Linked DNA regions of Homo sapiens: region 1 is linked to region 2. Evidence: fine-mapped expression QTL. A gene starts in region 2. The other region holds a variant in brackets. All regions are shown on one strand. Distances are from middle to middle. Region 1 overlaps CLHC1 (clathrin heavy chain linker domain containing 1). Region 2 holds the start of CLHC1 (clathrin heavy chain linker domain containing 1).

Region 1 (2,912 bases), 20 kb after region 2:
ATAACTAGGAAGAAAACTTCAAATAATGCTTAAGAGAAGTTTATACTACCTTTTGGTCTTTAAAATTTTCATTTCTGGATAAACTTAGTTTTATCTCAGGGAAGTGCTGTCCTTCCTCTAGCTCTAGGATCAAAATTACTGTAGTAGGCTCAATAAAGTTTTTCAAAGACATCAGGTCCTAGTCTCTAGAACCCCTAAATGTTAACCGTATTTGGAAAAAGGGTCTTTGCAGATGTGATTAAAGATTTTGAGATAGGGAGGTTATAAAAGTAAGCCCTAAATATGATCATAAATGTCCTAATAAGAGGGAAACAGGAGCTTTGCCATAGGCAGAGGAGAAGGCAGTATGACCATAGAGGCAGAGACTGAAGTGATGAAGTCAGAATGCCTGCAGCCCCAAGGCTGGAAAAGGCAAGGAACAGATTCTGAAGGAAGCACGGCTCTGCCAACACTTTGATTTTGGTCCGGTGATACTGATTTTGAATTTCTGGCTTCCAGAATTGTAAGAGAATAAATTTCTGTTGTTTGTAGTCACCAGGTTAGTGGTAATTTATTACAGTTGCCACAGGAAACTAATATAATTACTTACCAAAATATTTTTTAAATTACAAAAGTAATTTTCTACTAAAGAGAATAGTTTGTGGCCATATTATTGTGATTAGCACTTAACGAATTTCCAATAGGGTTCAGAATCATAGTATGAGATTTTATTGATGCTCAGAAAGAAAATTCTTCCTCATTTGTGAGGCTAGATAACTTTTTCAGGGCATTTCACCTAGTCCATAATGGTTCAAAATAAAGTAATGATTTAACCTGTTTGACTTTAGGTTTTGTGGTTCAAGAATTAAGTTAGTTGAAAGACATAAGAAAGCCTTTCTGTTTTCCAGAATGAGGATTATCGAAAGTAATTCCTCGAAGATTCAATCTCAAATAGATCACATCAAGCAGTGTAGGGCAGAGTATGACACAAAAGAAGTAAAATATTGTACTTTCTCCAAAGATCCTTCAAAACCTATTCCAGGTATTGTATTTTGTTTAAAATATTTGAGAGAAATCCTGATTATTTCCAATTTTTACCTAAGGCATGCATTAATATAAATGTGCTGATGTATGTGCATCTTGCACATGTGTGTGTGTTGTACACATAATTTTAGTCAGGACTGTAGGTAGATTCAAGGGAATGGAAAAACGAACTCTAAAAGATTGAGTTTCAGTCAGCTGGGTTATATAAAGTGTAATGCAGTGGCTCCTGAAGTATGGTTTCCTGTATCAACATCAGCATCACCTAAAGACCTCTTAGAAATGCAAATTCCTGATTCCCATCAGATCAGAGACTTAACTGTGTCAGAAACTCAGTGGGTGGAGTTCAGCAGTGTCTTAACAAGACCTTCAGGTTTTTCTTTTCTTTTCTTTTTTGAGACCTAGTCTCTCTCCGTCACCCAGGCTGGGTGTGCAGTGGTGTGATCTCGGCCCACAGCAACCTCCCTCTCCAGGGTTTAAGCGATTCTCGTGCCTTGGCCTCCCAAGTAGCTGGGATT[A/G]CAGGCGCGTGCCACTGTGCCCAGATAATTTTTGTGTTTTTAGTGGAGATGAGGTTTCATCATGTTGTCCACGCTGGTCTCAAACTCCTGGGCTCAAGCGATCCACCCGCCTCAGCCTCCCAGAGTGCTGGGATTAAAGGCATGAGCCACTGTGCCCAGCCGCTTCAGGTTTTTTTGATGCACTCTAAAGTTTGAGAACGACTGGTATAATATAAGGAAAACTGTAGTGTATTAAGTTTTGGTGGATATTGTTGATTCATGTTGATGTCAGCATTCACTGCTTCCACATCTTCAGCATAATACTGTTACCACATTTTAAGAAATTGTAGTATATCCTGGAATTCATCTAGGATATGGAGAGGTTTTTACGATGAGTGGATAGAGGAATTACAGATATTCATCCTGGAAAAAAGAAAGACTTTGAGAAAAGATAATGGTATTCCAAACTTTTAAAGATTTTGGCTAGTGTTTATTCTGAGGCAGGATTAATAGGTAGAAATTTTAGGAAGCCAGATTTGGTCTTGGTGGAAGAAGCTGTGTGTTGAAGTAATGAGCTACTCTATACTAAAGGATTTCAAATGAGGTTGAATAATCATCTTGTGTTTCATAAAAGTAGGGACTAGATTCACTTTCTTTTTTTTTTTTTTTTTTTTGGAGACATAGTCTCGCTCTGTCACCCAGGCTGTAGTGCAGTGGCCTGATCTTGGCTCACTGCAAGCTCCGCCTCCTGGGTTCACACCATTCTCTTGCCTCAGCCTCCTGAGTAGCTGGGACTACAGGCGCCTGCCACCACGCCCGGCTAATTTTTTTGTATTTTTAGGAGAGACGGGGTTTCACCGTGTTAGCCATGATGGTCTTGATCTCCTGACCTTGTGATCTGCCCATCTCGGCCTCCCAAAGTGCTGGGATTACAGGCGTGAGCCACTGCACCTGGCCTAGATTCACTTTCAAATATAAAATTGTGACTAGCAAATGACGAATAAGATACATATTAATAAGTACAGTATAACTGACAAATTGGGACTAAGTGCTGAGAAAATTCTGGGTAAGGGACTGGTTAAAATTAAGTAGAATCAATGCAGGTAAGTTTCTGGGGGAGGAGTATTTTGTGATATGTACTAAAGTCAACAATTGGCCCAGATGAGAAAGGAGGATTATTTAGGGCTGGGCACAGTGGCTCATGCCTGTAATACTAGCACTTTGGAATGCTGAAGTGAGAGGATCTCTTGAGTCCAGGAGTTTGAGACCAGCCTGGGCAGACCCTGTGAGAGCCTCTCTCTCTCTCTCTATATATATATCTACATATTTTTTAAAGGCATTTGAAGAGAAAGAGAGAGAGTTATGAATAATAAGTAGACGGGAGAGTGAGAGAGA
Region 2 (2,912 bases):
AGTCTCTACTAAAAATACAATAAATTAGCCAGGCATGGTGGTGCACGCCTGTAATCCCCACTAATAGGGAGGCTGAAGCACAAAAATCACTTGAACCCGGGAGGCGGAGGCTGCAGTAAGCCGGGACAAGCGAATGCACTCCAGCCTGGGCGACAGAGGAGACTCCATCTCACACAAAATAAATAAATAAGTGTCCAAATTCACGCAAGTGAAATACACCTCAAGGATTCCAATCTAGGTACTGTGCTCCCCGATCACCAATGTCTATTGTGTTATTCCACAAGTATTTCGCTTTGTCAATCTGACCCCTTCCCCCATCACCAAGAGCAGGTATGTCTAGCACCTACAGGTAGGCCGAAGTCTCCGCAGGTTAAGTTTTCTTAACTACAAAATACTACTTGCCTTCCTTATCCTGGATCTTGGCCTTTACATTTTCTATCGTATCCGAGGGTTCAACCTATGAGTGTTAAAGTGAAAGCATGTTGGTTACACATTAAGGAACTACAGCAGAACTCATTTAGTTTGACAATTACCACTGAACCGAACCAGCGACAGGGCTGAGACCTACTCGAGAGACCTATTACCCACCCAGTGGGCAACCTCCCAAGTCGGCTACCGGAAAGCACCTTCATCTCCCCAGCCCAGAGCGGGCGGCGGCCGCAGGGCCACACGTGCTCGCACCCGGCGGGCAGAGCGTCTCCTTCCCCACCGCAGCTCCTCCGTTTTAACTAACTAGCTGGAACCCCTCGAGAGGAGACAGGTCCAGCCTTTGGCCACCGAAAATCACCTCTAGGTCGTTGCTCAGCAAAAGGTACTCATTTCAAAGCTTAAGTTTTAGAACCCAAATTCGGAATCATGGTCTAAGACATGGAAAGCAGCGCCGGTCCTAAAATCCACCTCAGGACCTTATTCGGACCTTGGCTTCCTCATGACCACCCGGCCCGTACCTCGAGGGTGATGGTCTTCCCCGTAAGGGTTTTCACGAAAATCTGCATTTTGGTGGCGGCTCCACCTGAGGTTGAGGAAAAGGAAGAGACAGGTTAGGTCAGGGATCACAAGAGAAGGCACCATAGGGTGCTAACCCGAGAGCAGCCGAAGTGCAGACACCCACCGCAGATGGCGGATCGAAAAGGAAGAACGCCGCGCAGGCCCACGGGGTTTCCCGGAGCTCCCGCCGAAGGACCCACCCCTTAGGCGACCACACCAAATGCCTGACTGCCGTCCCAGCGACAATCCAACCCGGTGCCAGACTAGGACGTGAACTTCGTTTCTCCTCTCCCTAGCCTGGGCTTATTTCTCACTTTAGCCTTCGGAATGCTTTCGAAACTGTAGGTTTAAGCAACGTAAAAGATGTTTTAAAAAGGCTTTTCCCGTACAATCAACGTGGCTAAGAGAATTTTTAAAAGGAGGTCGAGGGGGGCCTCTTGGGGAAGAGGTAGGAAATGGAAGTGCATTCTGGGAACTGTAGTTCTCCACTGCTTTCTTCTACCTTGGACTACTTGTCCCAAGATGCAGTTCCACCTCCCAGATTCCCTAGTTACTATCTCTAAGCACTGAAGTCGGTGTTTGGAGAAAAGGACTCAGGTGAGGACTGGAGGTAGGATGAAGCGGAATAATGGTTTCCGGAGCGTGGGAACGGGCCGGAAGTGACTAGAGCAAATGTTAAGCGGGGGGCAAAGGGTGCGGGGCACGAAAGGTGTCCTTCACTCACTTCCAGAAGCGGTGATGGGCAGAGAATCAGCAATCTACCAGACGCTCCTTGGGCCTTCAAGGGAAGGGAATTTGCGTGGCCTGCTCCAGGCAAACTGAAAAATAGGTGAAATCTGCGGAAGCGGGGGTTCAGCCCTTTCTCTCCTGTAGCGCCTCCCTGCTTTCAACCGCCGAGTCTCTCCCAGCCTAGGGAAGAGTCTGGGTCTTGTGTGTCACTCCTTAGTGTGACACGCTTTAATATGTTGAAAAATCTCAGGAGTTTTCAAATTTTAAAGTGAAGCCGTACGGAAAAGAAACCTGCAGAATGGTTATTTAGTTGTAGAATTTCCAAATTTGGGCATTGGGAGTCTTGGATCTGAGAGGAAGTTTTTGGAGTATGTATGGGGTGCTTCTTCCGGCAAGGAGGCCAATTAGAAGCAAGTTCTCCCTGTCCTTTCTCCACTCCACAAACCAGAGTCCTTTCTAATGTCTTCTGTATTTATTTCTTCATCCTCTGCCCTCTGCGACCCCATCCCCAAATTCAGACCTTAATTTTCTCTTGTAGGGGTTCCGAATCTAACTCCTTATCTCTCTCCAGTCTTTCCTCCTTTCTAACCCACCTTCACTATTGCCTCCAAAATATTCATTCTGAAAGGTAAATGTGTGTTATTATTTTATACCTCACCTTCAGGATACAATTCAAATTTCTTAGAATGACATTCAGCCTCTGCCTTCCTTACAACCTAATCTGCTAAACCCATTACTCTACATTTTAGTAAATGAAGCTAATTTAATTTCCTGACCTATGCCCTCCCGTGTTTTGGCATTTCTGAAGAATCCAGTCGTTTATTCTTCCTGGAACTTTTTTTTTTTTTTTTCGTGAGACGGAATTTCGCTCTGTTGCCCAGGCTGGAGTGCAGTGGCGCGGTCTCGGCTCACTGTAAACTCCGCCTCCCAGGTTCAAGCAATTCTTCTGCCTCAGCCTCCCGAGTAGCTGGGATTACAGGCGCCCACCACCACACCCGGCTAATTTTTGTATTTTTAGTAGAGATGGGGTTTCACCATGTTGGCCAGGCTGTTCTCTAGCTCCTGACCTCAAATGATCCATCCTCCTTGGCCTCCCAAAGTGGTGAGATTACAGGCGTGAGCCACCACGCCCTGCCTCCTGGAACATTTTTCATCCCCTAGTCCGCCAACTAGTCTCTACAACAAAATTTCCTAGA

The links.
Region 1: its variant is fine-mapped to the expression of CLHC1 in cerebellar hemisphere (GTEx, PIP above 0.99).

The regions. Positions count from the first base shown.
Region 1 is chr2:55,210,782-55,213,693 of GRCh38, reverse strand. It overlaps CLHC1 (clathrin heavy chain linker domain containing 1), which reads left to right. Exons shown (of 13, transcript NM_152385.4): 5 at 888-1,021. Among named protein-coding and RNA genes, the nearest start is that of CLHC1, 20 kb to the left of the region's middle. The variant A/G (reference allele first, on the strand shown) is at 1,539.
Region 2 is chr2:55,230,908-55,233,819 of GRCh38, reverse strand. CLHC1 (clathrin heavy chain linker domain containing 1) reads left to right here and starts at 1,527. Exons shown (of 13, transcript NM_152385.4): 1 at 1,527-1,597. RPS27A (ribosomal protein S27a) reads right to left here and starts at 1,132. Exons shown (of 6, transcript NM_002954.6): 1 at 1,112-1,132; 2 at 948-1,012; 3 at 403-457. The coding sequence starts at 995. RefSeq lists enhancers at 853-1,032, 1,053-1,482.